Linked DNA regions of Homo sapiens: all the other regions are linked to region 1. The links come from fine-mapping of genetic effects on gene expression. A gene starts in region 1. Each other region holds a variant in brackets. All regions are shown on one strand. Distances are between the middles of the regions. Region 1 holds the start of DRD4 (dopamine receptor D4). Region 2 overlaps PHRF1 (PHD and ring finger domains 1). Region 3 overlaps PHRF1 (PHD and ring finger domains 1). Region 4 overlaps DEAF1 (DEAF1 transcription factor).

Evidence for each region. PIP is the estimated chance that this variant, and not a neighbour inherited with it, causes the effect. A credible set is the group of variants that fine-mapping cannot tell apart.
Region 2: its variant is the best candidate, but not a certain one, in a credible set for the expression of DRD4 in subcutaneous fat (GTEx, PIP 0.57).
Region 3: its variant is the best candidate, but not a certain one, in a credible set for the expression of DRD4 in prefrontal cortex (GTEx, PIP 0.79).
Region 4: its variant is the best candidate, but not a certain one, in a credible set for the expression of DRD4 in whole blood (INTERVAL, PIP 0.50).

The regions. Positions count from the first base shown.
Region 1 is chr11:632,504-640,635 of GRCh38, reverse strand. It overlaps DRD4 (dopamine receptor D4), which reads right to left and starts at 3,367. Exons shown (of 4, transcript NM_000797.4): 1 at 3,047-3,367; 2 at 1,091-1,203; 3 at 330-988; 4 at 1-235. The coding sequence starts at 3,331. The coding sequence ends at 33. RefSeq lists enhancers at 809-1,342, 1,343-1,877, 1,878-2,411, 2,412-2,946, 2,947-3,480 and 3 more.
Region 2 is chr11:579,331-587,462 of GRCh38, reverse strand. It overlaps PHRF1 (PHD and ring finger domains 1), which reads right to left. Exons shown (of 18, transcript NM_001286581.2): 2 at 5,857-5,971; 3 at 5,382-5,501; 4 at 1-204. The coding sequence starts at 5,950. Among named protein-coding and RNA genes, the nearest start is that of PHRF1, 6.9 kb to the right of the region's middle. RefSeq lists enhancers at 2,699-3,198, 3,199-3,700. The variant A/G (reference allele first, on the strand shown) is at 4,307.
Region 3 is chr11:592,909-598,208 of GRCh38, reverse strand. It overlaps PHRF1 (PHD and ring finger domains 1), which reads right to left. Exons shown (of 18, transcript NM_001286581.2): 7 at 1,189-1,286; 8 at 639-814. Among named protein-coding and RNA genes, the nearest start is that of PHRF1, 19 kb to the right of the region's middle. RefSeq lists an enhancer at 2,209-2,708. The variant T/A (reference allele first, on the strand shown) is at 3,041.
Region 4 is chr11:665,791-673,922 of GRCh38, reverse strand. The region is part of intron 10 of DEAF1 (DEAF1 transcription factor); the gene reads left to right. Among named protein-coding and RNA genes, the nearest start is that of DEAF1, 25 kb to the left of the region's middle. RefSeq lists an enhancer at 1-6. The variant TC/C (reference allele first, on the strand shown) is at 3,841.

The DNA.
Region 1 (8,132 bases):
ATCAGGCCGGGGGGCGTCCGGGGGTGCCCGGCTCAGCAGCAGGCACGCAGGGCCTTGCGGAAGACGTTGCGGAACTCGGCGTTGAAGACAGTGTAGATGACGGGGTTGAGGGCGCTGTTGACGTAGCCCAGCCAGGTGACGGCGCTGACCAGCCGCGGGGGCACGGAGCAGGCAGGACACAGCGCCTGCGTGATGTGCACCACGAAGAAGGGCGTCCAGCACAGCAGGAAGGCCCCTGGGGGCGCCGAGAGCCGCGTTAGCGCCCCCCGCCCAGCCGGCCTCGTACCCCCCCCCTCCTCTCCTCCCCGCCCCTCAGGACAGGAACCCACCGACCACCACCGGCAGGACCCTCATGGCCTTGCGCTCCCGGCCGGTGATCTTGGCACGCCGCCTCCTGCGGGTCTGCGGTGGAGTCTGGGGTGGGAGCGCGGCGGCTCTGACGGCGTCGGGGGGAGCACAGTTGGAGCCGCAGGGGTCCGGGGGGAGGCCGGGCGCGGGGGGCGCACAGTCGGGGCCGCAGGGGTCCTGGGGGAGGCTGGGCGCGGCGGGCGCACAGTCGGGGCCGCAGGGACCCCGGGGAAGGCCGGGCGCGGGGGGCGCACAGTCGGGGCCGCAGGGGTCCTGGGGGAGGCGGGGCGCGGGTGGCGTGGGGGAAGGCGGGCCAGGGCCGCTGGGTCGGCGGGGCGCGCGGCCGTGCAGCTTGGCGCGACGTGCCACCTCCCAGCGCTGCAGGCCGCGGAACGTGGCCCAGTAGAGCAGCAGCATGAGCGGGCAGGGTAGGAAGAAGGAGCACACGGACGAGTAGACCACGTAGTCGCGGTCCTCCAGGCGGCACACGGCGGGGTCGCGGCCGCGCACGTCGTTGAGGCCGCACAGTACGGGCGCCGCCACCGCCGCGGACAGCAGCCACGTGGCGCCGATGAGCAGCAGCTGCCGGCGGCTCCCACCCTGCCGGTTGTAGCGCAGCGGCACGGCCACGGCCACGAACCTGCGGGGAGCGCCGAGGGGGCGCCGGACAGCGCACAGGCCGCGGTGAGGGCGGCGGGCGGGGCGCGGGGGCGCCGGGGCGCGGGCGGGGAGGGCGGCGCACCTGTCCACGCTGATGGCGCACAGGTTGAAGATGGAGGCGGTGCACAGCATGACGTCCATGGCCATGAGGGCGTCGCACAGGCGGGGGCTCAGCAGCCACGCGCCACCCTGGACCTGCGCGGCGACACCACAGGCCCTGAGGTTTCCCAGCCACCGCGGGCCCTTGTGACCCGCCCCCACTCTTATGGGTAGTTCCAGGGCTGAATACGGAGAAGGGGGCCCGGCTGTGAGCCAGAGGCCAGAGGACCGGGCAGGGAAACACCCCTTCCCCACGCAGATCTCCCTTTGTTTTGAGTTAGGGTCTCGCTGTGTCACCGCGGCTGGAGTGCTGTGGCTCCATCATGGCTCACTGTAGCCTGGAATTCCTGAGCTCAAGCGATCCTCCCACCTCAGTCTCCAGAGTAGCTGGGATTACAGCCGCGCGCCACCACCCCCGGCTGATTTGTTTTTCTTTTTGTTTTTTGAGACGGAGTTTCGCTCTTGTTGCCCAGGCTGGAGTGCAGTGGTGAGATCTCAACTCACTGCAACCTCCGCCTCCCAGGTTTAAGCGATTCTGCCGCCTCAGCTCCCCCGAATAGCTGGGACAACAGCCGCAGCCACCACCCCCGGCTGATATTTTAAAATTTTTTGTAGAGACCAGGCCTGGTATGTTTCCCAGGCTGGTCTCAAACTATCCTCCTGCCTTTGCCTCCCAAAGTCCTGGGATTACAGGCGTGAATCACGGCTTCTGGCCTTGGTCTCCCTTTTGTTACAAACATGAGAACGGCCTGGGGAATTCCCTGGGGGCGGGCCTGATATCATCGGGCTCAAAGGGAGCCCCTCCCCAGCCTGGGGTAGGCAGGGTCCCCGCTGGGCCTAGAAGCGAAGCTGGCTGCTCTGTTGGCTAAGTTCTCTGTGGGAGACTCGGGCACGTTAATTCATTTCTGTTTCTTCATCTGTAAGACAAGGGTGATGATAGTATCCACATCATAATTGTCTTGAAGATAAATTATAATTAAAAATATGAAGACCGTGCCCAGTGCCCAGCGTAGGACTCCACGTGGAGTGACTCTCTCCAAGGGCAAAGGAGCAGGCAGCCCCTCTAATCCTTCCCGCCGATTTGGGGAGATTAGGAGCTTAAACGTCGTCACTGTGACGTCTGCGGCTCGAAAGGAGCACAGGTCACGCGTGTCCCGTGCTGCTGGTCTCTGCCCCAGCCGCCTGGATTCACTGTGTCCATCAAGGGGAAACCTCGAGTCCCCCTCCCCCACAGTCGGGGACACCGCGTCTCCAGCTCAGCCCTAAGCTGCTTTTCTCTGGCCGCAGAGGGGCTGGCACCAAGGCCGACCCACTCGAGGGCCAGACCTGGTGTGGAGTGTGGGCTCCATCCCCCAATTCCCCCTCAGGCTTCCCCCCAGGGTTCTCAGCAGGGGCCTGGTCCCCACACACCCTCCCCTCCCCTGGGTTTTGTCCAGCCCAGGTCTCCCCTGCGAGCTGTGAGCCTCCTTCTGGGGGTGTGCCAGCATCTGCACTAGGTGTGTGTGGTGGGCAGTGGCTGTGGCAGTGTGTGTGTGTGTGTGTCCCACGGCAGCCAGGGGGCTGAGCCTGCATCTGCCTGTCTGTCCAGCTGGCTGCCCTGGAGGTGAAATCCAGCTACGGAGGGGACTGGGCTTGACAAAGTCGCCTGTTTCCGGGGTCCCTGGATAGAAGGACGGGCATCTCCTGGATAACAGACGCCAAGACAGACGGGGAAGGAGAAGAGGAACGAGGGTCGGGGGACAGACAGCGCAGCGGGTGGAAGGTCGCGAGGTGGCGGCGGTGGGTGTATCGCCGAGGGACAAGGCGCAGCGCCCCTGCCGCCGCCCCAGCTGGAAGCTCCGCACCAGAAAGGGGCCGGGTCGCGCCGGGTCCTCCGTAGGGACAGGGACGGGGAACCGAGGAGCAGGTGAGGATGCTCGTGCGGCCGGACGCGGCTCACCTCGGAGTAGACGAAGAGCGGCAGCACCAGGAGAGCGAGGAGGAGGTCGGCGGCCGCCAGGCTCACGATGAAGGAGTTGGTGGGCGTCTGCAGGGCGCGCTCGGTGGCCACGCTCACGCACACGAGCGAGTTCCCCGCGAGCACCGCGCCGATGAGCAGCACGCCCCCCACCAGCGCCGCCGCGCCCTGCCCAGCCAGCCCCGCAGATGCCCCCGCAGATGCCCCCGCGGCCGGCCCGCGCCCAGCCAGCAGCCCGTCCGCGTCCGCGGTGCTGCGGTTCCCCATGGCGCGCCCGGGCGGGCGCTGAGCACCGCGGACAACGCCGGGTCGCAAGCCGGGGAGTCCCTCCCCTCGGGCACGCCCCGGCCGGACCCTGGTCCCGCCCCCGACCCGCCCCGGCTCAGGGGGGCCCCCGCGGCGCTCCACCGTGAGCCCAGTATTTGCTCATCTTGGAATTTTGCGCAGGGAGAGACGGGCACGTGGACGAATGCGGCGGCCCAAAGAGACGGGAATGAAGCGAGGTGGTGGCCACGGGCAGGCCAGCATCGCCCGGCGCCGCGCGGGGTCCGCGACCCGAGAAACCGACAAGGATGGAGGGGCGGCCAGACCAGGCCCTGAAGCGCGCGGGCATCGACGCCAGCGCCATCCTACCCGGCCCGTGCGTGCGTCCCGGCCCTCGGGCGCTCACCCTAGTCCACCTGGTATCTGGCAAAACCTCCCTCCCAGGCCCGTTCCGCCAGACGCAGAAAGACCTGAGCTCAGGCTCTGCCCGCCTCCCCCGCGGACTCGCCTCGACCTCGTGCGCACCCTCCACGCCCGCTCCCCCTGCCCCCGACTCCGCGCCCGACTCAACCGCCGACGCCTAGCTCATCCCGCCGCCCCCCCCCCGCAGCCTCTGGCCCTCAGCCCCCGCGACCACCACGGTCAGCCGCGGCCCCACCCGTTGCACAGTTGATCCTCGCGTGGCCGCCTCCGAAACTGGGCGGACAGCTGAGCGGTCGACCCCGCTCCCTCCTCCATTCCCTCCGGCCCAAGACCGTGAGCTAGGTAGGCGCCCCTCTGACCCTGGGCAGGGGGTCCCGGGACCGGACAGTAGGTTCGGCTCGCGAGGAGGCCAGGAGAAAGACACGACAGGCCGGGGTAGGTTCCAAACGTGCAGAAGAGAAAGTGCTTGCAAAGCGCAGCAGAGAATTCTATGGACTCTTCACCAAAGAGGGGTGACCTGTGACCTGAGAGGTATTTTCTGTAGTCTGTCACTAAGGGGCCTAGAAGACACTAAAAGGGGGCACCACTCTGTGGGACCCCAGGCGGCGCACATCCTGATGCTCTAGTCTGTTTCTGGGAGGCCTGGAGTGGAGGGGCTGTGCCAGGAATTGAGGCCCCTGACCTCGAAGGTCTGGAGGACACGGGCTAGACGGAGGCGCTGACAGGGCGTGCGTTAAAGGGAGAAATGAGGACTCTGAGAAGGAGCAGGCACCGTGAGCCTCACAGGACAAGGTCACGGGGCTGCGGGGGAAGGGCCTGCACCAGGGACAGGTGTGCACAGGCATCAGGTGCGGCCGCAGCCAGGCTCAGTCCCTCTTGTGCAGATCAGTCTGCTGCCCTTGTGAACCCTTGAGCAAAAGAAGTCACCACAGGAGAGACCACCAGGGACAGGTGTGCACAGGCATCAGGTGCGGCCGCAGCCAGGCTCAGTCCCTCTTGTGCAGATCAGTCTGCTGCCCTTGTGAACCCTTGAGCAAAAGAAGTCACCACAGGAGAGACTGGGACAGTGGAAGTTTCTTCTCTCCCAGGATGGAACCGGGGAGGGTGGCCCTGGGGTCTCCGGCTGGGCGCCAAACGGCGAGTCCAGCCCAGCCTCTGGTCGGCTTAGAGTTCCTTCAAGTAGCCCCCAAGATGTCTGCGACCACCAAGAGTGAAAACCAAGCTAGGCGGAGAAAGGATGTGTGCAGCACACATCTCTGACACACAGATCCAGAAACAATGGAAACAATGAGAAAAGACAGACAACCCCAATTTGTTTTTTTTTTTTTTTTTTTTTTGAGATGGAGTTTCACTCTTATCACCCAGGCTGGAGTGCAGCAGCACAATCTTGGCTCACTGCAACCTCCGTCTCCCGGGTTCAAGCGATTCTCCTGCCTCAGCCTTCTGAGTAGCTGGGATTATAGGCGCCCGCCACCACGCCCGGCTAATTTTTTTGTATTTTTAGTAGAGACACGGTTTCATCATATTGGCCAGGCTGGTCTCGAACTCCTGACCTCAGGTGATCCACCTGCCTCAGCTTCCTAAAGTGCTGGGATTACAGCTGTGAGCCACTGCCCCCAGCCTCCACTAAACTTCTGTTGTTTATCTGAAAATCAAATGTAACTGGATGTGATCACATCTTACTGCAATCATGGCTCACTGCAGCCTCAATCTCCTGGGCTCAAGTGATCCTCTGGCCTCAGCCTCCTGTACAACTGAGACTACAGATGCGTGGTGCCACACCCAGCTAATTTTCTTATTTTTTGTAGAGACGGGGTCTCGCCATGTTAGCCCAGCCGGTCTCAAACTCCTGGGCTCAAATGATCCTCCCACTTCAGCCTCTCAAAGTGCTGTGATTACAGGCATGAGCCATACAGCCAGCCTAAACAATTTTTAATGAGGACCTCCACTCATACCTTACACATTAAAAAATTAACTCAAATATGCTGTCAGGAGAATCAAAAGACACAGACCAGGAAACGACATTTGCAAATGGCCACGTCTGGCAATGTTTCTTCCATTTTAGTGTAGTAGGACGTCGTTGATTTTCCTGATGGCTACTCATGTTTGACCACTTTTCCCATGTGCCTGTTAACTGTCAGCATGCCCTCTTCTGGAATGTGCCTGTTAAAAATCTTTGCTTTTGTTAAAAATTGGGTTGTCTACGCCAGGCGCAGTGGCTCACACCTGTAATCCCAGCACGTTGGGAGGCCGAGGCAGGTGGATCACCAGGTCAGGAGTTCAAGACCAGCCTGGCCAACATAGTGAAACCCCATCTCTACTAAAAATACAAATAATTGGCCAGGCGTGGTGACTCACGCCTGTAATCCCAGCACTTTGGGAGGCCGAGGCAGGCAGATCACAGGGTCAGGAGATCGAGACCATCCTGGCTAACACGGTGAAACCCTGTCTCTACTAAAAAATACAAAAAAATCAGCCGGGCGTGGTGGCGGGCACCTGTAATCCCAGCTACTGAGGAGGCTGAGGCAGGAGAATGGCATGAACCCGGGAGGCGGAGATTGCAGTGAGCCAAGATTGTGCCACTGCGCTCCAGCCTGGGTGACAGAGCAAGACTCCGTCTCAAAAAAAAAAAGCCGGGCGTGGTGGTGTGCACCTGTAATCCCAGCTGCTTGGCAGGCTGAGGAAGGAGAATCACTTGAACCCAGGAGGCAGAGGTTGCGGTGAGCGGAGATCACGTCATTGCACTCTGGCCTGGGAAACAGAGCAAGACTCTGTGTCAAAAAATAAATAAATAGGCTGGGCGAGGTGGCTCATGCCTGTAATCCCAGCACTTTGGGAGGCCGAGGCAGGCAGATCACGAAGTCAGGAAATCGAGACCATCCTGGCTAACACAGTGAAACCCTGTCTCTACTAAAAATACAAAAAATTAGCCAGGCGTGGTGGCGGGCACCTGTAGTCCCAGCTACTCGGGAGGCTGAGGCAAGGGAATGGCGTGAACCCGGGAGGCAGAGCTTGCAGTGAGCCAAGATCGCACCACTGCACTCCAGCGTGGGCGACAGAGCGAGACTCCGTCTCAAAATAAATAAATAAATAAATAAATAAATAAATAAATAATAAATTAAAATTAAAAAAGAAACAAATTTTTTTTAAAAATTAGCAATCATATATCCAGCAAATGGCTTGTATACAAAAAAGATTAATAATTCTCAAAACTCAACAGTAATGATATCACAAAAAGAAAATTCCAAATGAGTATCCTTTATGAATATAGATGCAAAAGTTCTCGAAAAAATATGAGCAAACACAGTCCCTTTTAAAGTGCTGCCTGCCAGAAAAGCAGCATTTTTTTTTTTTTTTTGAGATGGAGTCTCACTCTGTCACCCAGGCTGGAGTGCAGTGGTGTGATCTCGGCTCACCACAACCTCTGCCTCCCGGGTTCACGCTATTCTCCTGCCTCAGCCTCCTGAACAGCTGGGACTACAGGCACGTGCCACCATGCCCAGCTAATTTTGGTATTTTTAGTAGAGACAGGGTTTCACTCTGTTGGCCAGACTGGTCTCAAACTCCTGACCTCATGATCCGCCCACTTTGGCCTCCCAAAGTGCTGGGGTTACAGGCGTGAGCCAGTGCCTGGCCGAAAAACAGCATTTTTAAAAGGATTATGTACCATAACCCAGTGGGATTTATCCCAGGAATGCAAGGGTGAACGAACAGACGAAATTCAATGTCATACACCACATTAACAGAATGAAGAAAAACCCACGCGATCATCCCAACTGATGCAGAAAAAACCATTTCATAAAATTCAAAACCCTTTCATGATAATAAGACTCAATAAACTAGGAATAGAAACAAACTTCATCAGGCCGGGCGCCGTGACTCATGCCTGTAATCCCAGCACTTCGGAAGGCCGAGGCGGGTGGATCACTTGAGATCAGGAGTTCAAGACCAGATGCCCAACATGTTGAAATCCCATCTCCACTAAAAATACAAAAATTAAAATTAGCTGGGCATGGTGGCGCACGCCTACAGTCCCAGCTACTCAGGAGGCTGAGACACGAGAATTACGTGAATCCAGGAGGTGGAGGCTGCAGTGAGACGAGATCGCACCACTGCACTCCACCCTGAATGACAGAGGGGGACTGTCTCAAACAAACAAACAAAATACAAACACAGCTAACATCATACTCAATGGTGAGAAACAAAAAGCCTTTGAAAGAGACAAGGATGCCCACTGCTGCTGCTTCTGTTCAACATTGTTCTGGACATTCTAGCAAGAGCATTACTCAAGAAAAAGAAATTAAAGGTATCCAAAATTGGAAAAGAAAACTATTTCTACTTGCAGATGACATGGTCTTATGTATAGAAGATCCTCCACAAC
Region 2 (8,132 bases), 53 kb after region 1:
TGGACCATTCGACAATGCAGTCCAGGCAGAAGTAATGGGCACAGTTCTCCGGCGTCCCCACGGCCTGGTCTCTGAATGCGTTGAGACAGATTGGGCAGCTCTCTGCATCATCATCAGAATTGAAAGAGCCAGCGGCTTCCAGTTTCCCCTGAGTACCCGCTACCTCCAGCAATGTCTCCCCGTCGTCTTCAGAATCCTCGGAACCTGGAGAGGAAACATGCCAGCTGGTGCAAGCAGGATGGGCAGCGTGAACCGCGGCACTGGAGGCAAGCGGGCCCAGGCTGCGCTCAGGACACCAGGTCGGCAATGCACAGCCCACCTCCCCGCAGGCTCCTGCCACTTACCTCCACGTCCACGCTCAGCACATCCACAACCCTGGGAGCCCTGCCCTGCACCTAACCTGAAGCCTCGGGTGCCCTGCACCGAGGGGCGGGAAGCTGAGCGTCCTGAGTGCCAGACCAGCTCCTCTAAGCTGAGCCTGGGGCTGAGGCAGACCTCGAGAGGCAGGGCAGCCCTGGGGCCTAGCACAGGTCCCAGAGACCATCAGGTTCATTTCAGAGCCTCCAAGCGAGCCCCTCAGTGCAGCAGCCCCCTGACAGCAGCCCCCATTTCCAACGCCCCCTTCTCAAAGCATGAGGACCACAAACCCTCTGCCCGCGGAAGGGACTTCCTTCTGAGGTTGCCTGTTCCTCCTCCCTGTGGGAGGCAGAGCACAGACTCCTAACTGGGCCACTAACCACAACCGTTCTGGCCAATTCGGAGTGGTTCTGAGGCTACACCTTGACCAGCAGGGAGCAGGGAGATGCTCCGAGTTCAACACGGCAGAGCCCATACGTGCACTGCTATCTTCTTTGTACCAAACTCCAATGAAACAACGCTAAAGTAAACAGAACACAAGTTCACATGGGAAGAGGAGCAGACTCGGTGTGGGTGGCAGGTTCCTCCTAGGCCCGAAACCCTCCAAACCCTCCCGGTTCCACGCATGTGGGCAGGACCCTGCCAGCACTGGGGCATCACTGCCAGGACCCTCTGTTATCTGGCAAAGGGAAAGACACACCCAGAACAGAAATATTTACACTGTTAAAGAGGCTGGGAGAAGTGAGAGCTGCGAGGGAGGCAGCAGAAGAGTTTTAAGTTCCCATCTTTCATGTTAAGAGTTGAAGAGCTACTGGCCGGGCGTGGTGGCTCACGCCTGTAATCCCGGCATCTTTGGGAGGCTGAGGTGGGCAGATCACGAGGTCAGGAGATAGAGACCATCCTGGCTAACAGTGAAACCCCGTCTCTACTAAAAGTACAAAAAATTGCCAGGCGTGGTGGCTCAAGCCTGTAATCCTAGTACTTTGGGAGGCTGAGGCAGGTGGATCACCTGAGGTCAGGGGTTTGAGACCAGCCTGGCCAACATGGTGAAACCCCGTCTCTACAAAAAATACAAAAATAGCCGGGTGTGGTGGCGTGTGCCTGTAATCCCAGCTACTTGGGAGGCTGAGACAGGAGAATCGCTTGAACCTGGGAAGCAGAGGTTGCAGTGAGCCTAGACTGCACGATTGCACTCCAGCCTGGGCAACAGAGCAAGACTCCGTCTCAAAAATAAATAAATAAATAAATATACAAAAAATTAGCTGGACGCGGTGGCAGGTGCCTATAGTCCCAGCTACTTGGGAGGCTGAGGCAGGAGAATGGCGTGAACCTGGGACGCAGAGCTTGCAGTGAACTGAGATCGTGCTGCTGCACTCCAGCCTGGGCAACAGAGCGAGACTCGACCTCAAAAAAAAAAAAAAAAAAGAGTTGAAGAGCTACTACCTCAAGCTGGAAAGGGCTACTACCTCAAGCTGGAAAGGGCTACTACCTCAAGCTGGAAAGGGCTACTACCTCAAGCTGGAAAGGGCTACTACCTCAAGCTGGAAAGGGCTACTACCTCAAGCTGGAAAGGGCTACTACCTCAAGCTGGAAAGAGCTACTACCTCAAGCTGGAAAGGGCTACTACCTCAAGCTGGAAAGGGCTACTACCTCAAGCTGGAAAGGGCTACTACCTCAAGCTGGAAAGGGCTACTACCTCAAGCTGGAAAGGGCTACTACCTCAAGCTGGAAAGGGCTACTACCTCAAGCTGGAAAGGGCTACTACCTCAAGCTGGAAAGGGCTACTACCTCAAGCTGGAAAGGGCTACTACCTCAAGCTGGAAAGGGCTACTACCTCAAGCTGGAAAGGGCTACTACCTCAAGCTGGAAAGGGCTACTACCTCAAGCTGGAAAGGGCAGTGTAACAAGTGATTTCCAGCAGGAAACACCAGGGTGGGAAAAGCAATGAGAACGAAAGCTCCCAAGCCCCAGCAACGTGGGTGTTGCTCGTGGAATAACTCCCTCCTCAACATGTTTCCCACCAGTTAGGGACCCACTGGCTACTTCTTCATGTTTAAAAAACAGTCCTGGCCAGGCGCGGTGGCTCATGCCTGTCATCCCAGCACTTTGGGAGGCCAAGGCGGGTGGATCACCTGAGGTCAGGAGTTCAAGACCAGCCTGGCCAACATGGTGAAACCCCATCTCGAATAACAATACAAAAATTACCCAGGCATGGTGGTGCGCGCCTGTAATCCGAGCTACTCGAGAGGCTGAGGCAGGAGAATCGCTTGAACCCGGGAGGCAGAGGCTGCAGTGAGCCGAGATTGCGCCACTACACTCCAGCCTGGGCAACAAGAGTGAAACTCGGTCTCAAAAAAAAAAAAAAAAAAAAAAAAAGGTCCTGGAGAAATAAAAAGAAGTGTTCACAGTGGCTATACCAACACCTCTCCAGTGCCTTCCCATCCCCTTCCTTCGGGGCGCTCAGCCCTCAGGGGCTCCAGGTCTCCATAAACCTGTCTCTTCACAGCTCCCCCGTCCTGGCCTGCCGCCTCTGCCCAGCCACCTCCTCCTGCCCCTCAGGTGGCAGCTTGGATTCTCCAGAAGCCTCTCCCCACCCCAGGTCCATGGAGCCTGCCCCTCCCCTGGACGCCCACAGCTCTCAGTGTCTATGACCCTGTCCCCCAGCTGCTGCTTGGCGCACTGTTTGCTGCTAGAAGGTGAGCGCAGACACGGTGGGGGCCCTGCTGAGGCTCCCGCCACCTTCACTCCAGCCCCCAACCCAGAGTCTCTGGCATCCAATGTGCCCTCAGGATCTCAAGGACAGAGTCACCTGGCGGCCCTGACGGCCCACACTTTCAGCCCTGGCAACGCCAGAACTGGTGCGGAGACCTACTACAGATGAACCAGAGCCCTAACCTGATGCTGGGAGGGAGCAGGGAAGCCCCTCAGGACCTGCAGACCCAAGCAGACCCGCAGAGCACGTGCAGAGCTAAACATCGAACTCTGGAAGGACACGGCCAACACACATTGGCTCAGGCCATGAGTGCCATTCCCTTACCAACAGTCTCAAACAGGAGTGTTACCTTTCTGGAACATTCTAACCCTGATAACCACAGGGCTATGCAGAAAGACTGCTACACACAGATCACAGTAGCCACTTGAGGACCATGGATTTTCCAGCCCAAGGGTGATGTCAGAAGGAAAGTAGTGGAAAGGCAAAGTTCTGAGCCTGAGCTCGGCCTCCCTCTGAGGAAGCAACCACAGCAGGGCCGGGGCAGGGCCACCTCCTTGGTGGCCTCACAGGCTGTGCACCACCGAGGGTGATGGCAACAGGGGACAAGGAAGGAGGTACCACCAGCGCACCCCACGGACTTGTCTCCCCTTTGTTTTGTTTGAGATAACGTCTCGCTCCAACACCCAGGCTGGAATGCAGCCTCAACTTCCTGGGCTCAAGGGTCCTCCCACCTCAGCCTCCTGCGTAGCTGAGACCATGGGCCTGGGCCACCACACCCAGCGCAGACCTGCCCTTTGGAACATTGTTCTCTCAAAAGAAGTTCAAGGGCACAACCATCAGCCAATTGTAAGTGAGCTGAGAATTTTTTATCTTTTTGAGACAGAGTCTCGCTCTGTGGCCCAGGCTGGAGTGTGGTGGCGTGATCTCAGCTCGCTGTAGCCTCGACCTCTTGGGCTCAAGCGATCCTCCAACCTCAGCCTCCTGAGTAGTGGGGATTACAGGCACGCACCACCACGCCCGGCTAATTTTGGTGGGGTTTTTTTGTTTGTTTTTTTTGAGACAGAGTCTCGCTCTGTTGCCCAGGCTGGAGTGCAGTGGCGATCTTGGCTCACTGCAACCTCCGACTCCCGGGTTCCAGCAATTCTCCTGCCTCAGCCTCCCAAGTAGCTGGGATTACAGGCGCGTGCCAACACGACTGGCTAATTTTTCTATTTTTAGTAGAGACGGGGTTTCACC[A/G]TGTTAGCCACAATGGTCTCGATCTCCTGACCTCCTGATCCGCCCGCCTCGGCCTCCCAAAGTGCTGGGATTACAGGCGTGAGCCACCGCGCCCAGACAGCCAGAATTTCTTTTTCTTCCTTTGAGATGGAGTCTCGCTCTGTCGCTCAGGCTGGAGTACAATGGCACAATCTCGGCTCACTGCAACCTCCACCTCCTAGGTTCACACCATTCTCCTGCCTCAGCCTTCCGAGTAGCTGGGATTACAGGCGTCTACCACCACACCCGGCTAATTTTTTGTATTTGTAGTAGAGAGGGGGTTTCACTATGCTGGCCAGGCTCGTCTTGAAAAAAGGCCGGGCGCGGTGGCTCACGCCTGTAATCCCAGCACTTTGGGAGGCTGAGGTGGGCGGATCACGAGGTCAGGAGATCGAGACCATCCTGGCTAACGCGGTGAAACCCCATCTCTACTAAAAATACAAAAAATTAGCCAGGCTTGGTGGCGGGCGCCTGTAGTCCCAGCTACTCGGGAGGCTGAGGCAGGAGAATGGTGTGAACCCAGGAGGCAGAGCTTGCAGTGAGCCGAGATCGCGCCACTGCACTCAGCCTGGGCGACAGAGCGAGACTCCGTCTCAAAAAAGAAAAAAAAGGAGGACTACAGGCCAGGCACAGCGGCTCACTTGAGGTCAGGAAGAGTTCCAGACCAGATGGTGAAACCCCGTCTCTACTAAAGATACAAAAAGTAATTAGCCAAGTGTCATGGTGCGTGCCTGTAATCCCAGCTACTCACGAGGCTGAGCCAGGAGAATCACTTGAACCCGGGAGGCAGAAGTTGCAGTGAGCTGAGATGGCACCACTGTACTCCAGCCTGGGCAACAGAGCGACACCCTGTCTCAAAAAAAAAAAAAAAAAAGAAATGAAGTACTACAAATAAAGTGAGCCGTCACCACAGCTGAATATAAGGCCTCACCGTAGGTGACCGCAGGGACATGGCCAGCTGTGGTGACAGCACTCTCACGGAGGATGTGTTATAAAAGGCTGTCCCCATCACGACAAGAGGAAACACAGGAGCCGGCGTGAACACCAGCTGTCTCACCAGATCTGTCTTCCAGGTCTTCCTCCTCAGACGCCCCCTCGTCTTCTCCGTCTGTGCCATCTCCATGCTCGCTGTCACTGTCGTCCCCAGAGTCCCCACTGCTGCCCACGCTGCTTTCTTCTAGACACCAGGGTGAGACACAGGCCGCAGGGCGGCGTCAAGACCATGCAGCAGAGAGCAGGTTGCTTTGCACAGGCATAGAGGCGTCAGGAGCACCTGCCAAACGGCTAACGGCTTCCCCAGGGCCGGCAAGGTGGGGGCACAAGCAAGGAAAGGGAACATCCTTTCGTTCAACATTTGTGTTGTTTGCATTAAAAATAAAACAAAACAATACACTACTTCCGCAATTTAAAATCAAAGCATAATTTTTTTAGACTGAAAGTTGACAAGTGACACACACAGACGACCTCCAAAGGGAAACACCAGGCACCCTGCTCCTCCTGGGGACGCCCCTACCCGGCGCTAGGCAGCTCACCAAAGTCACCTGCCGGGTCCGCAGGGCCGACCTGTGGGTGTCCATCCGGCCCTGGGCTCCGGGCCACAAGCTCATCCAGGCTGTCGTCATCCATTGCTGCACATTGAGCTCAGCTCTGAAAGAAAGAAGAGCCAAGCAACTTCCAAACTGTCCCAGGCTGCAAAGAACCCTCTGAAGAGTTATGACCTCTCCCCACAGGCCACATCCCCGTGTCACATCCACCGCCACAGCACGTGAAGAGTGAGCCCTGAGATATCACCCACAGAACAACTCTCAGCAGTATCCCCACAGGCCACACCCCAGTGTCCCAGTGTCACATCCACCGCCACAGCACGTGAAGGGTGAGCCCTAAGATATCACCCACAGAACAACCCTCACCAGTAAGCCTTACACATGATTCACATTTACAGAGCTACCCATAAAGCCAGATCCTAGCTGGCCACTGTACCCGGCCAGAAAATAAAAATTTGTTTTTAACTAAAAAAAAAAAAAAAATTGGTCACGCCTGTAATCCCAGCACTTTGGGAGGCTGAGGCGGGCGGATCACCTGAGGTCGGGAGTTTGAGACCAGCCTGACCAACATGGAGAAACCCCATCTCTACTAAAAATATAAAATTAGGCCAGGCATAGCTGCTCACGCCTGTAACCCCAGCACTTTGAGAGGCCGAGGCAGGCGGATCACCTGAGGTCGGGAGTTTGAGACCAGCCTGGCCAGCATGATGAAACCCCGTCTCTACTAAAAATACAAAAATTAGCCAGGCGTGGTGGCGGGCGCCTGTAATCCCAGCTACTCGGGAAGCTGAGGCAGGAGAATCGCTTGCACCTGAGAGGCGGAGGTTGCAGTGAGCCGAGATCGCGCCACTGCACTCCAGCCTGCGCAATAAGAGCAAAACTCCATCTCAAAAAACTGCAATGCTCCTGAGGAATCGCAACACCATATACGAACAAAACGGCCTCATCCTGAGCTGAGGCAGAGCCGGGCTTTATCAGCTGGGCACAAGAGGGGCCTCAGTGACACGTAGGGTGCTCTCCCTGCCAAGGCTGGCCACTGTTGGGATGCCTGGAGGCTCCTCTGACCGCACCCCAACCCCATCCACCAGGGTGCTGCTGAGTCCCCAGTGGTACCCAGAGCTGAGGAGGCAGAAGGCACAGAGGCCAGGCCCACCCCTCGGCTCCCAAGACCACTTGCTCAAGGCCCTGACCCGTCAGCCGGGACCCCTGCCCTTCCCACTCTGCAAGGTCACTGTGAAACCACACAGGATCCCGTACAAAGCCTTGGGAAATCTAGTTGGACACGCTCCTCCTTCCACACCAGGGCCTCAAACTTTGGTCCCAGATAAGAAAGGAGATACGTGCACGTGGTTCATTTCTCATCAGTGCTATTGACCTTGTTTCCCAGGCGACTCTCGGAGGAAAGGCCTGTCCTAGGAGAGTGAGTCAGGAATCCAGCGAGGCAGTGAAGCCGGCCCTGCAGCACTCTGTTTCCCACCAAGTCCAACCTCCATCCATGATCAGAGGAAAGCGCATCGCACAAGAGGCCAGGAAGTAGGGGGCCAGAGCTGCCCTCGAGTTCAGGGCCTCCTTGCATTGGAGCTCAGCTCCCACCACCACTGTGGGCTGCACATGTACCACAGCAACGGGGGAAAGTGGCTGTCAGCGCCACTGCTGTCTGGAAACCCCTGGACAACAAACCCTAACGGGGCTCAGAAACCAGGACGGCCTCACTTCCCATCTGACAAGACAGTGCAAAACCCTAGATTCTAAGATGATGCCTTATAAAACAGTGAAGAATGTCAACTCCATCCAACTGTCAACTGCCAAATCTTACTACTGCCTGGAAACAGCGATTGTAGAAGTAGTTTTGCCAAATTAGTAATTAACCTTTCTTCTACCTGCCACCCTAAGGTGAAAACACCTGGTCATGATCCCCGCTCAAGGCAGTCTGCACCCCTGGTGCTTGGTGGACCCAGCAACTCCGCAGAGACGCCCTGCTCGTCCCGCACCTGAATCCTAGAGACACTGGCTCTGAGAGACACACGAGGGCCACGGCCCATCCAGGAGGGTGACCCCTCTCCCACAGCATGCACTGAGACCTAGCAGTGACCACAGCTCTCAGATAAGAGGACCTTAACTCCCTGGCAATAGCTGTGACCACCCTGACAACAGACCCCACATCTTCCAGGACGCCTGCTCCAACACCTACCCTGCTCCTACTTTGTGCAGCACAAGGCGAATGCAGTCCCTGCCCTGGAGAAACATATCTGAAAGAGGGAGGC
Region 3 (5,300 bases), 41 kb after region 1:
CCAGAGGCTGCCAAGCACTCCCACGGGGGCAAGGCGGGTGGGGGACAGACAGCATCCCAGGGGCACACGAGAGGGCACCAGTCACTGTGGCGGGGGTGGCGCAGGTACTGGGCAGGGCACTGGACAGGGACAGCCCCCTCCCCACCCAGCCTTCTCAGTCCACTCCAAATTCAGCGTTAGGCTTGCCAAGGGCACACACCACATGCCCACAGCCCAGACCCTCCTGCTTGTCCAATGCCCAGGGAAAGGCTGCTGTCAGGACGGAGGCTGCAGGGAGCACCTGAAACCGAGCACCAGGTCCAGTGCAAGAGGAAGGTGCTCACAGGTGCCTAGAGGGAGCGGTGCTGGCATGGGGCCTGGGGAACAAGGGGGGTTTCCTAGAGCCCCCACCCCGCCAGGGCCAGGCTTCACCTGCCCCTCAATACCTGGCTCCAGGTGCTCAGAGGCAGCCCCACCTTGGGCCGCTGGGGTCACCCTGGGGTGCACTCATCTGCTCCCCTCAGCAGGCCGAACAACATGAGCCACCGGGGCCGGGCGGACCCCACAGTGCCGACGACGCCCCTCCCACCCACCCAGACTGCCGAGATCACTCTGGGCAGCTGGGGTTCTACGACTGGCGTCAGGGCTGGGCCACCCACCTGGACCCTCCTGGCCGTGGAGATCCGGTTCCGGTTCACGGTTGCTCTCACTCTCTCACTCTGCCGTGTCCTGGCTATCGCCCGGGTCCTACCTGCTCGAGGCCGAAGCCTGCTGGTGGTGGGCACCACATCAGCCAAGAGCAGGGAGACCTCCTCCTCACTCACGGGACCCGCATCTGGGAAGAACCACCAGGGCTGATGTGCCACACTCACAGGCCACACGCCTCCCCCAACGGCTCCCCCTGTGGCTGCCGGCCAAGTAGCAGCCCTGGCTCGGGCTGACCTGTGCACAGGACCCAGGGCTGCTCATGGAGCCTGGTGCTCCTAACACTGAGGACCGGAACCCCCCAGCCAATGGACCCCACACACATCCCCGAGAAGACGAGCCCGAGACAGCCCTAGATGTCCTCCCGACACCGCAGCCAACCCTAACCCCCATGAGACAGCCCTAGATGTCCTCCCCACACAGCAGCCAAACCTAACCCCGGGGACCGCAGAGTGGACAGTGAGAAGGCCCATGTGCGCCTTGGGACGGGAGCAGTGTCCTTACCAGCGGCAAGGACAACACCAGGCGCAGCACATTCCGGGCAGAACCACTCGTCCACCGGCACCTCCTGGAGAGGGGGGTCCAAGCATTCCATGTGGTACCTACAGGAGAGAGCAGGGCCAAAGCATCCGGGTGCTGCTCACAGCTTTCCCAAACCTCCTCAAGTGAGGGGACCACAAAGCAGGCCTCCGATGGCACCCAAGTCTGCGATGCATTCTGTTATGGGCTGACCCACATCCCTCCAAAATTCATAAGAAGCCCTAACCCCCAATGTGACAGCAGATAGACATGGAACCTTTAAGGTTATAGGATTGGTGTCCTTAGATGAGGGAAGGCCAGGTGAGGTCACAGCGGGGAGGCGGCCGTCTGTAAGTCAGGAAGGGGGCCTCCCCAGGAACCAGGCCTGCTGGTATCTCAGATGTCTAGTTTCCAAAACCAAGAAAAGGAAGACCTGCGGTTTACGCTGCCCAGCCTGTGGTATCCTGACAGCAACTGAGCTGGCTGCGACACACGACACACACCCACAGGCCGACAGTGGCTCACACTGAGCTCCTGCGGTAGGTGCTGCCTGTGGGGCCCCCTTCCCAGAGAGCTTGTCTCCCCCACCCTCACTCCCGGGTTTTCAAACATTGCACCTCACACCAAGCCACTGAAGAAGGCGAAGGTTTCTTTGCTGAAAGGAAACTATGTTTTAATTGTTTCTATCGAGCCTTCTGGGAAGGTAGTTTGGGAAGTGCTGCCACTGGTATGAGGTATATGTGCCCCTCCAAGCAGCCGAGGCTCGGGAGTCTATGCAAAGATCCTTGAAACTTCATCCCAAAGACCCCAGACAGCCCTGAGTAAGGCAAAAACAATCAAGGGAAGGGAGTCAAGCTGATGATTTCCCTGAAAATTGAGCCTGAATTCAACTGAACTTAACTACCACTTACCACGGGCTGAACTGTTCTAGGATCTAAGATACGAGTTAAACAAGAGTAAACCCATTCTCCCAAGAGTCCTGCACCTATGAGAAGGTGTCTGCTGTGTGGCCCTTGCTAGGGCCATACAAGAAAGACAGGAGACAGGCATGCAGGAAGAGAAGCCGACTGCCCCGGGCACACGACACGCCCTGCCAGGCCAGCAGAGGGGGGCGGCGGGTGGGGGCACTCCAAGAGCCTAACTAGGTCCCCTAACATCTGTTCTTATACAAGTTCTCTGGGGACAAAGGCAAGGATGAGCAGTACCTTCTTTCAAAGAATTCCAAAGTCTGAAAACGTCCAACCCACTTTCCCACCACTGAGCTCCAGCAGCCTTGGAGGAGGCTGCGGCTCACCTGAGGCCCGAGCAGAAGGCCCCTCTGCGCCTGGCAGGCGCCCATCCACAGCCAGGCCAGGCCTGTGTCCCCCACACTCATCCCCGAGAAGAGGAGATTGGCTGCAAGTTTAAATACGAGCACGGGGACAAGGAGGGCTGCCGAGACCTGCCCAGCTACGGTGCAGGCACCCATGGCTCCACCTGCACAGGGAGCTTGGTGGCCCTGCAGCTGAAGGTGCTCAGATCTGACCTGCCCAGGGAGGGGAGGGCCACACCTAACAGGCCTCAGTGAGCCCCTGCACTGCCTCCCTGGTGAACACACACTTTTAAATTAGATTGTAACTTAAAAAAGAAAAAAATCAGAAACTGTATCTTATTTCATGTAATGTCAGTGTATCTACAGATAGTGTTTTTTTGTTTTTTGTTTTTAGTCTCTCTGGAGTGCAGTGGCGCAATCTCGGCTCACTGCAACCTCCGCCTCCCAGGTTCAAGGTATTCGCGTGCCTCAGCCTCCCAAGGATCGGGGGTTACAGGTGTGAACCACCACGCCCGGCCAATTTTT[T/A]TATTTTTAGTAGAGACGGGGTTTCGCCATGTTGGCCAGGCTGGTCTCGAACTCCTGAGCTCAGGTGATCCACCCGCCTCGGCCTACTGTGATTCCATTTTGACATGAGGAACTGAGTAATTTTAGACGTGTGATTTTTAAGTCAGACTTAACTGAAAATTTGGCAGACTGCAAATTGTAACAGTATGGAAATGTTTAGAAGTATGAGAATCGTTATATTGATCAGTTTTAATGTTTTAGATCCACCAGGGTTTTTATGTACTTGCGTTGTTTTATCTGCCAAGTAATTCAAGTAGTGTAGGTAGAAAGAAAATCAATATATCAAGTTTGTAAATGTAATTTATAATAAAAAATTTTAATTAAGCTGTAAACATTCCCAAGAGCCTTGTTAGAAGGTACTACAACTAGGTTGGGCATAGTGGCTCACGCCTTTAATCTCAGCACTTTGGGAGGCCGAGGTGGGCGGATCAATTGAGCCCAGGAGTTCCACACCAGTCTGGCCAACATGGTGAAACCCCGTTTCTCCATAAAATACAAAAATTAGCCAGGTGTGGTGGCATGTGCCTGTAATCCCAGCTACTGAGGAGGCTGAGGCAGGACAGTCACTTGAACCTTGAACCGAGGTTGCAGTGACTCGCTGCAGAGGTTGCAGTGACTCGCTGCAGAGGTTGCAGTGAGCCAAGATGGCGCCACTGCACTCCAGCCTGGATGACGGACCAAGACTCTGCCTTGAAAAAAATAAGTAAATGAGTAAAATAAAAGCTAACAGGAAAACCAGGCTTTGTGCGTGAAAACTGGCCTACCAGCTGCCCTCGAGCCACTAGAAGGCTCACGGCCCTGGCCTGCGATGAGGGCCTTGCCCAAGACGGTGCCTGTGGCGACCAGGACCAGGTCTATCATGCCATGGTCTCTCAGGCCGTGTCCAGCGATTCCAGGCCAGCCCAGGCCCTTCCTTCACATGCCCAGAGTGGCCGCAGCCACAGGTAAAGAGGACAAAAGAGGACCAGTCCTACACATGGGCATGGAGTGCTGAGCCACCCCTCCACCTTTTTTTTTCTTTTTAAGCATTCTGCATATATTCACGGTGTAAGTCAGTAATCAACAGCCAATAAGCACTGTGCCCAGGGCTGCAATGACCAGGCTGCTGGGATAGTCAAGGCAGCAGCCCTGCCCTTCAGACTCACAGCAACCAACTCAGTGCCTGCCGGGGCAACTGGCAGCAGACGCTCCCAGGAACCCTGAGGAGGTGAGGACCGTCAGGGCAGAGCACTCAGGAAACTCACAAAACATGGATTTAGGCTCAGACTCGTGAGAAAGGAGGGACGGCGAGGTGTCTGCGAATGTGAGCAGAGGCGTGGCTATCTCCCGGCTGCTGGGAGCAGAGGGCAGGACCAAGCAGGGGCTGGGGACCTGGAAGGGCCGGCGGAGCGCACTGCAAGGCCCCTGTACTCCCACAGGCCATGAGGAGGAGGGCGAACTGACGATGAGACAAACGTGGTGGCCGCCTGCAGGACCCCCAAGGAGGCCCCTGCAGTGTCTGCAAAAGGACAGCCAGCGATTCCTGCACCAACAACAGCGTGAGTGGAGCAGAGGCCTGGGTATGTGGCTAACAACGAGGTGACAGGTGGGGGCACAAGCGGCTGTGCTCAAGGACGAGTCAAAGCTGGGACGACCGGGACCACCCGCCACAGAGCAAAGGCCTTCACCAGGAGCCCATCCTCGGTGCGGCTCCAGCCGCGGCACGTCAAGGCCTCCTGGCTCCGGCTGTTCCGTAGTCCAAACCCTGACCCAGCTACTTCCCACCCAAGAGAAGGCCCCAGATCGAGCAGCCTCACTGGTTCTTTCAACAAGGGAAAGATTTCCAGAATCCTCTCTCCATAATTTCACAGCAGAAAAATTATTCAAATCAACAGGGAAAGCCCCTCGCAGGAGGCTAACGGGGAAGGGGGCATCTGCTTACAGCCAACGACACAAAGCAGGGATGAGGAGACAAGTGTCACAGGCTCCCGGGAAGCCAGGGCCACGCAGGGCCAGAGCAGGCGCTCTCAGCTGTGCCAGGGAGAGCAGCAGGTGCAGCATAACTGGACATGCACCAGAGGGTGAAGGAGGAGCAGGGTGAAAGGTGAGGGACCAAGGCAGCCAGAATGATGGACGCAGGCATAGCCACCCCTCCCCCACAAAGGCCGGGACCAGGACACGTCCCACCCTCTGGCTGACCAGCCCCACAGCCTCCTGTCCGGCTGTTTTCTTTTTTGTCTTG
Region 4 (8,132 bases), 33 kb before region 1:
TTACTTAGATTGAAGACTTTGAGGTAATATAAAGGTTCAGGTGGGTGACATGAATAGGGTAGATAGAAATTACTAGAGCCAGAGTAAACTGGAGAGAGGGTGGAGGTTTCTCAGCTACTTCTCATAGCCCAAACCCAGCAGACAGGTACCGTGTGTCACAGGGCACGGGGACGAGAAGGTGAGAGAGGAGGGCGCCTGTCTGCTCAGCACAGATGGGGAGCTCTGAAGGCCACAGGAAAGGACAGGGATGGATTTTGTTGTAGCTGCTTTTTCGGGTACGGTAACGTGGACTTTGGTTTGTAAACAAAAGTCAAATTCATATTTTTCCCACCAAATCTATGTAAGAAACGTTTTCCCCCATTTCTTTTCTACTTTCTATTTTTATTTTTATTTGTGGAACAGGCTGTCACTCTGTCGCCCAGGCTAGAATGCAGTGGCACAATCTCGGCTCACTGCAACCTTTGCCTCCCGGGCTCCAGCGATTCTTGTGCCTCAGCCTCCCAAGTAGCTGGGACTACAGGCACCCACCACCACACCTGGCTAATTTTCTGTATTTTTGGTAGAGACGGGGTTTTACCATGTTGCCCAGGCTGATCTCACACTCCTGAGCTCAGGTGATCCACCCGCCTCAGCCTCTTAAAGTACTGGGATTGCAGATGTGAGCCACCATGCCCAGCTTCTACTTTTTATAGAAGAACTTTTTATTTATGTATTTATTTTATTATCATTATTTTTTTTTCAGCTGCTGCTTTATTTTACTTTATTTTATTTTTTGAGACGGAGTCTCGCTCCATCACCCAGGCTGGAGTGCAGTGGCACGATCTTGGCTAACTGCAACCTCCACTTCCTGGGATCAAGCAATTATCCTGCCTCAGCCTCCCAAGTAGCTGGGACTACAGGCGCCTGCTGCCATGCCTGGCTAATTTTTGTATTTTTAGTACAGACAGGGTTTCACCATGTTGGCCAGGCTGGTCTTAAACTCCTGACCTCAAGTGATCTACCCGCCTGAGCGTCTTAAAGTGCTGGGATTATACGTATTTATTTATTTATCTATTTAAAAAAAATTTTTTTTTTTGAGACGGAGTCTTGCTGTGTCGCTCAGGCTGGAGTGCAATGGCACAATCTCAGCTCACTGCAGCTTCCTCCTCCCGGGTTCAAGTGATTCTCCTGCCTCAGCCTCCGGAATAGCTGGGATTACAGGCATGTGCTACCACACCTGGCTGATTTTTTGTATTTTTAGTAGAGACGGGGTTTCACTATGTTAGCCAGGCTGGTCTTGAACCCCTGACCTCAGGTGATTCACCCACCTCAGTCTCCCAAAGTGCTGGGATTACAGGCATGAGCCACCTTGCCCGGCCTATTTATTTTTTAATTTTTAAATTTTTCTGTCATTCAGTGCACATCAGGTACTTGTTATAGATTCTACTAGACAAGCACATAACGAACAGTGATTATCATCCCAGGCCGTATTCAATGTTAGGGGTTTGTTACGGATTCTACTAGACAAGCACATAATGAACGGTGATTCTCAACCCAGGCCGTATTCAATGTTAGGGGTTTGTTACGGATTCTACTAGACAAGCACATAATGAACGGTGATTCTCAACCCAGGTCGTATTCGATGTTAGGGGTTTGTTACGGATTCTACTAGACAAGCACATAATGAACAGTGATTCTCAACCCAGGTCGTATTCGATGTTAGGGGTTTGTTACGGATTCTACCAGACAAGCACATAACAAACAGTGATTCTCATCCCAGGCCGTATTCTATGTTAGGGGTTTGTGTAGTTTCCCCAGGACCTGTAGTGGTGATTGTCCAGAAGCCTTCCATAGGAGGAATGCATGGTCATTAGGTATGCCACAGCTCCAAACACCAGCAACACCACTCAATGACTATTGAGGTAATGACAGTGACACTGCAGCTCCACATGGCTGGGGAGGTCTCACCATCATGGCAGATGGCAAAGCGGGAGGAAAGGCATGTCTTAATGGTGACAGGCGAGCAGAAGAGCTTTTTAGATTCTTAATTTTTTAAATGACTGATCAATATGTGATTAGTGTTTTTTGTGTTTCTTTTTTTTTTTTTTTTTTTTTTTAAGAGGTAAGGTCTCACTCTGTTGCCTAGGCTCATGGCTCATTGTAGGCTCAAACTCCTGGAAATACGGGTGCATGCCACCACGCTTGCCTAATTTATTTTTTTATTTTTTATTTTTTGTAGAGACTGGGTCTTGCCGTGTTGCCCAAGGTGGTCTCAAACTCCTGGGCTCAAGAGATCCTCCTGCCTCAGCCTCCCAAAGTGCTGAGATTACAGGCGTGAGCCACTGGACCCAGCATTAATTTTCTTTCAAGGAAGAAAAGTGTTTCTACTCCTGAAGACAAAGATAATTTTAAAATACTTTTTCACTGGGCACAGTGGATCACACTTGTAATCTCAGTGCTTTGAGAGGCTGAGGTGGGAGGATCTTTTGAGCCCAGGAGTTTGAGACCAGCTTGGACAACATGGTGAAACCCCGTCTCTACAAAAAAATATAAAAATTAGCTGGGTGTGGTGGTGGGCACCTGTAGTCTCAGCTACTTAGGAGGCTGAGGCAGGAGACTCACTTGAACCCAGGAGGCAGAGGTTGCAGTGAGCTGAGATCGGGCCACTGCACTCCAGTCTGGCGACAGAGCAAGACTCTGTCTCAAAAAACAAAAAGTCCAGGCGCGGTGGCTCACGCCTGTAATCCCAGCACTTTGGGAGGCCGAGGCGGGCGGATCACGAGGTCAGGAGATCGAGACCATCCTGGCTAACATGGTGAAACCCCATCTCTACTAAAAATACAAAAAATTAGCCGGGCGTGGTGGCGGGCGCCTGTAGTCCCAGCTCCTTGGGAGGCTGAGGCAGGAGAATGGCGTGAACCCGGGAGGTGGAGATTGCAGTGAGCCGAGATCGCGCCACTGCACTCCAGCCTGGGTGACAAAGTGAGACTCTGTCTCAAAAAAAAAAAAAAACATTAGCCAGGTGTGGTGACATGCCAGTCAAGAGGCTGAAACGTGAGGATTGCTTGAGCCTAGGAGGTTGATGTTGCAGTGAGCCGTGATCACACCACTGTACTCCAGCCTGGGCAACAGAGTGAGACCTCGTCTCAAAAAAAAAAAAAAAAAACAAAAACAAAAAGAAAAAAGAAATTAAAAAGGAAAAAAATAAAGAAAAAGATATATATATATTTTGAGATGGTCTTGCTGTGTCACCCAGGCTAGAGTGCAGTGGTGTGATCTCGGCTCACTGCAGCCTCCATCTCCCAGGTTCAAGCGATTCTTGTGCCTCAGCTTCCCAGATAGCTGGGATTACAGGTATGTGCAACCACGCCCAGCTATTTTTTGGTATTTTAGGAGAGAAGAGGTTTCGCCATGTTGGCGAGGCTGGTCTTAAACTCCAGGCCTCAAGTGATCTACTTGCCTTGGCCTCCCAAAGTGTTGGGATTACAGGTGTGAGCCACCGCACCTGGCCAAAAAAATACTTTAAAAAAAAAAAAAAAAAAGTATACTTCCAAACAAACAGCTACTTAATGCTGAAATTTATAGAGGAAAAGAAAGTTTAAAGGCAAAAAAATCTATAACCCTGCACCCAAAGATAATGACCGTGAACACTTACTGTGTGTCCTTTTGGTCTTTTTTGGTAATTGAGGTAAACTGTATGTACAGCAAAGTGCCTCAATCTCCACCATAAAATGTAGTGAGTTTTGATGAATGCATGAACCTGGTCATGAGACCATTTCAATCCCTGCAGAAGCACCACTCATGTCCCCTTCCATCGGTCCCCTGCCCCATGGACAGTCACTGCTCTCATTTTTTTTTTTT[TC/C]TTTTCTCTTTTGAGGCAGCATCTCACTCTGTCACTCAGGCTGGAGTGCAGTGGCATGATCTTGGTTCACTGCAGCCTTGCGCCACCATGCCTGGCTAATTTTTGTATTTTTTGTAAAGATGGGGTTTCTTTTTTTTTTTTTTTTTTTTTTTTTGAGACAGTCTCACACTGTCACCCAGGCTGGAGTACACTGATGCAATCTCGGCTCACTGTAGCCTTCGCCTCCCAGGTTTAAGTGATTCTCCTGCCTCAGCCTCCCGAATAGCTGGGATTACAGGCACATGCCACCATGCCCAGCTAATTTTTGTGTTTTAAGTAGAGACGAGGTTTCACCATGTTTGTCAGGCTGGTCTTGAACTCCTGACCTCAGGTGATCCTCCTGCCTCAGCCTCCCAAAGTGCTGGGATTACAGGCATGAGCCACCGCACCTGGCCTCTTTTTTTTTTGAGACAAGTTTCGCTCTTGTTGCCCAGGCTGGAATCCAATGGCACAATCTCGGCTCGCCATAACCTCCACCTCCCAGGTTCAAGAGAGTCTCCTGCTTCAGCCTCTCAAGTAGCTGAGATTACAGGCATGCGCCACCACGCCCAGCTAATTTTGTATTTTCAGTAGAGACAGGGTTTCACCATTTAGGTCAGGCTGGTCTTGAGCTCCTGACCTCAGGTGATCTGCCCACCTCGGCCTCCCAAAGTGCTGAGATGACAGGTGTGAGGTACTGCACCCAGTTGATTTTCTAGATTTCCTACCACAACTGATTTCTAATTCAACTCCAATATGCTTAGAAAATATACTCTGATTTCAGTTCTTTTAAATTGATTACGATTTATTTCGGCCAGGCATGGTGACTCACACCTGTAATCCCAGCACTTTGGGAGGCCAAGGTCTTGAGGCCAGGAGTTTGAGACAAGCCTGGACATTGTGAGACCCTGTCTGTACAAAAAAAAAAAAAAAAAAAAGGGTCGGGTGCAGTGGCTTACGCCTGTAATCCCAGCAGTTTGGGAGGCCGAGGCGGGCAGATCACAAGGTCAGGAGGTCGAGACCATCCTGGCTAACACAGTAAAACCCCGTCTCTACTAAAAATACAAAACATTAGCCAGGCATGGTGGCAGGCACCTATAGTCCCAGCTGCTCAGGAGGCTGAGGCAGGAGAATGGCATGAATCCAGGAGGCAGAGCTTGCAGTGAGCCGAGATTGCACCACTGCAGTCCAGCCTGGGCTACAGAGCGAGACTCTGTCTAAAAAAAAACAAAAAACTTTTTTTTTAAAGGGTTTCACTTTGTCACCCAGGCTGGAGTACAGAGGTGTGACCTCGGCTCACTGCAGCCTCAAGTTCCCAGGCTCAAGCAATCCTCTTGCCTCAGCCCCCCAAGTAGCTGGGACTATGGGCATGTGCCACCATGCTTGGCTAATTTTTGTATTTTTCATAGAGAGAGGGTCTCACTGTGTTGCCAGGCTGATCTCAAACTCCTGAGCTCAAGCCATCCACCCACCTCAGCTTCCCAAAGTGCTGGGATTACAGGCATGAACCACTGTGCCCGGCCAAAATGTTTCCTTCATTAGCCGGATCACTGGAGCCCAGGGGTAGAGGTTGCAGCGAGCTGTGATCACGCCACTGTGCTCCAGCCTGGGCAACAGAATGAGACCCTGTCTCAAAAAAACAAAAAGATGTGTTTTATGATCATGTATATACTTTTCGTGGTGAATATTGCATATACACTTGAAAAGAGTTTTATTCAGTCATTGGTTTTCGTTTTCTGTAATGTCATTAGGTCAAGGTGGTTCATAGTGTGGTCCAAATCTTGTTTTTCTTCAACCTAAAGATGTACTTTCAGCTTTTCTTTTCATATAGGTCTGTTGGCCATGAATTCTCTGTTTTTGTCTGTAATGTCCCTCTTTCACCTTTATTTTTGAGGGACGTTTTTGAGTGACATGGAATTCTGGGTTGTCACTTACATATATATATTTTTTTGAGACAGAGTCTCGCTCTTGTTTTCCAGGCTGGAGTGCAGTGGCACAATCTCCGCTCACTGCAACCTCCATTTCCCAGGTTTAAGCAATTCTCCTGCCTCAGCCTCCTGAGTAGCTGGGACTATCGGCGTGCGCCACCACACCCAGCTAATTTTTGTATTTTTGGTAGAGACGGGGTTTCGCCATGTTGCTCAGGCTGGTGTTGAACTCCTGGGCTCAAGTGATCCACCCGCCTGGGCCTCCCAAAGTGCTGGGATTACAGGCATGAGCTAACACGCCGGCCTATTTATTTATTTATTATTTTTTGAGACAAAGTCTCACTCTGTCACCAGGCTGGAGTGCAGTGATGCCATCTCGGTTCGCTGCAACCTCCGACTCCCTGGTTCAAGCGATTCTCCTGCCTCAGCCTCCTGAGTAGCTGGAATTACAGGCACACACCACCATGCCCAGCTAATTTTTTGTATTTTTTTATTAGAGACAGGGTTTTGCCATGTTGGCCAGACCGGTCTTGAACACCTGACCGACCTCAGGTGATTCACCTGCCTCGGCCTCCCAAAGTGCTGGGATTATAGGCATGACCTACCTGGGTTGTCACTTTTTATCATTCACCAGTTTAAAGATGTCTTTCCATCATCTTCTGGCCAGCCTGCCTACCTGCCTTCCTTCCTTCCTTCCTTCCTTTCCTCTTTTCCTCCTTCCCTCCTTCCCTCCCTCCCTCCCTCTCTCCTTCCTTCCTTCCTTCCTCCCTCCCTCCCTCCATCCCTCCCTTCCTTCCTTCTTTTTTCTTTCTTTTTTGAGACAGGGTCACTGTCTGTCACCGAGGCTAAGAAGCAGTGTTGTGGTCACATCTCAATGCAGCCTTGAGTTCCTGGGCTCAGGTGATCTTCCCTTAGCCTCCAGAGTAGCTAGGACTACCGGCACTGGCCACTACTCCCGGCCAATTTTTAGCTGGGGTTTCACCATGATGCCCAGGCTGGCCGCAAACTCCTTGGCTCAAGCGATCCTCTTACCTCAGCCTTCTGAGTAGCTGGGACTACACATGTGTACCACCATGCCCAGCTATTTTTTTGTTTGTTTTGTATAGATGGGGTTTCACTATGTTTCTCAGGCTGGTCTTGAACTCCTGGACTCAAGCAACCCACCTTCCTTGGCCTCCTAAAGTACTGGGATTACCAGCATGAACCACTGCTCCTGGCTATAACTATTTCTTTTTTTCTTTTTTTTTTTTTTTTTTTTTTTTGGAGACAGAGTCTTGCTCTCCAGGCTAGAGTGCAGTGACACGATCTCAGCTCACTGCAAGCTCTACCTCCCAGGTTCAAGCGATCTCTTGCCTCAGCCTTCCAAGTAGATGGGACTACAAGTGTGCACCACCACACCTGGCTAATACTTTGTTGTTTTGTTTTGTTTTGAGACGGAGTCTTGCTCTGTCGCCCAGGGTTGGAGTGCAGTGGCACGATCTCAGCTCACTGCAACCTCTGCCTCCCGGGTTCAAGTGATTCTCCTGCCTCAGCCTCCCGAGTAGCTGGGACTACAGGTGCATGCCACCACTCCTGGCTAATTTTCTGTATTTTTGGTAGAGAGGAGGTTTCACCATGTTAGCCAGGATGTTCACAATCTCCTAACCTCGTGATCTGCCCGCCTGGGATTACAGGTGTGAGCCACCGTGCCCAGCCTCAGGATCTGCTTCTTTTGGCTACTTTTTCCCTTCATCATGGATCCTGTTATCCCTTCTTCACACGTCCAGTACTTCCTGATTGTGTGTTGGAATTTTAGTTTATATACTGTTTATATGGTAGAGTTTATATGGTAGAGACTCTGAATTTTGTTGGATTCTGTTGTCTTCCCCTGAAGAGTGTTGGGCTTTGTTCTCGCAGGCTGAATTCTTATGGATCACCCTGAAGAGGATCAGTGTTGATGCTGTTAGGGCAGGTCTGTCTGGCTTTTTCTTCTGCCTGACACATCCTTAGTCTTGGATCTGCGAAGCTGTGGTTTTCTGGATGTTCCTGGGAAGTCCGTGGTGTTTTTAAGCCTCTAACTTGTGAAGGTTCAAACTCCAGACTTTCAGGTGGTGAGCAGCAGCCGCAGTCTCTGCTCAGTGTTCTCGGTCTTCAGCCGTCCATTTCTGCTGAGTCTTCCCCACATGCTGTGTCATCAGCTCAGGGTCAAACAAGGACGTGGGGAGCGTTTATGTGCTGGATGGGAGTGTCCTCTCTCTGTGCTTGCTCCTTTCTAGGGTTTCTCCCCTCATTTTCCAGCCACTTTGTCAGCTCTGGCCAGGGTGACTGCAGCCTGCTACCACGGTGTGGCCGCCCATGTCTGGTGG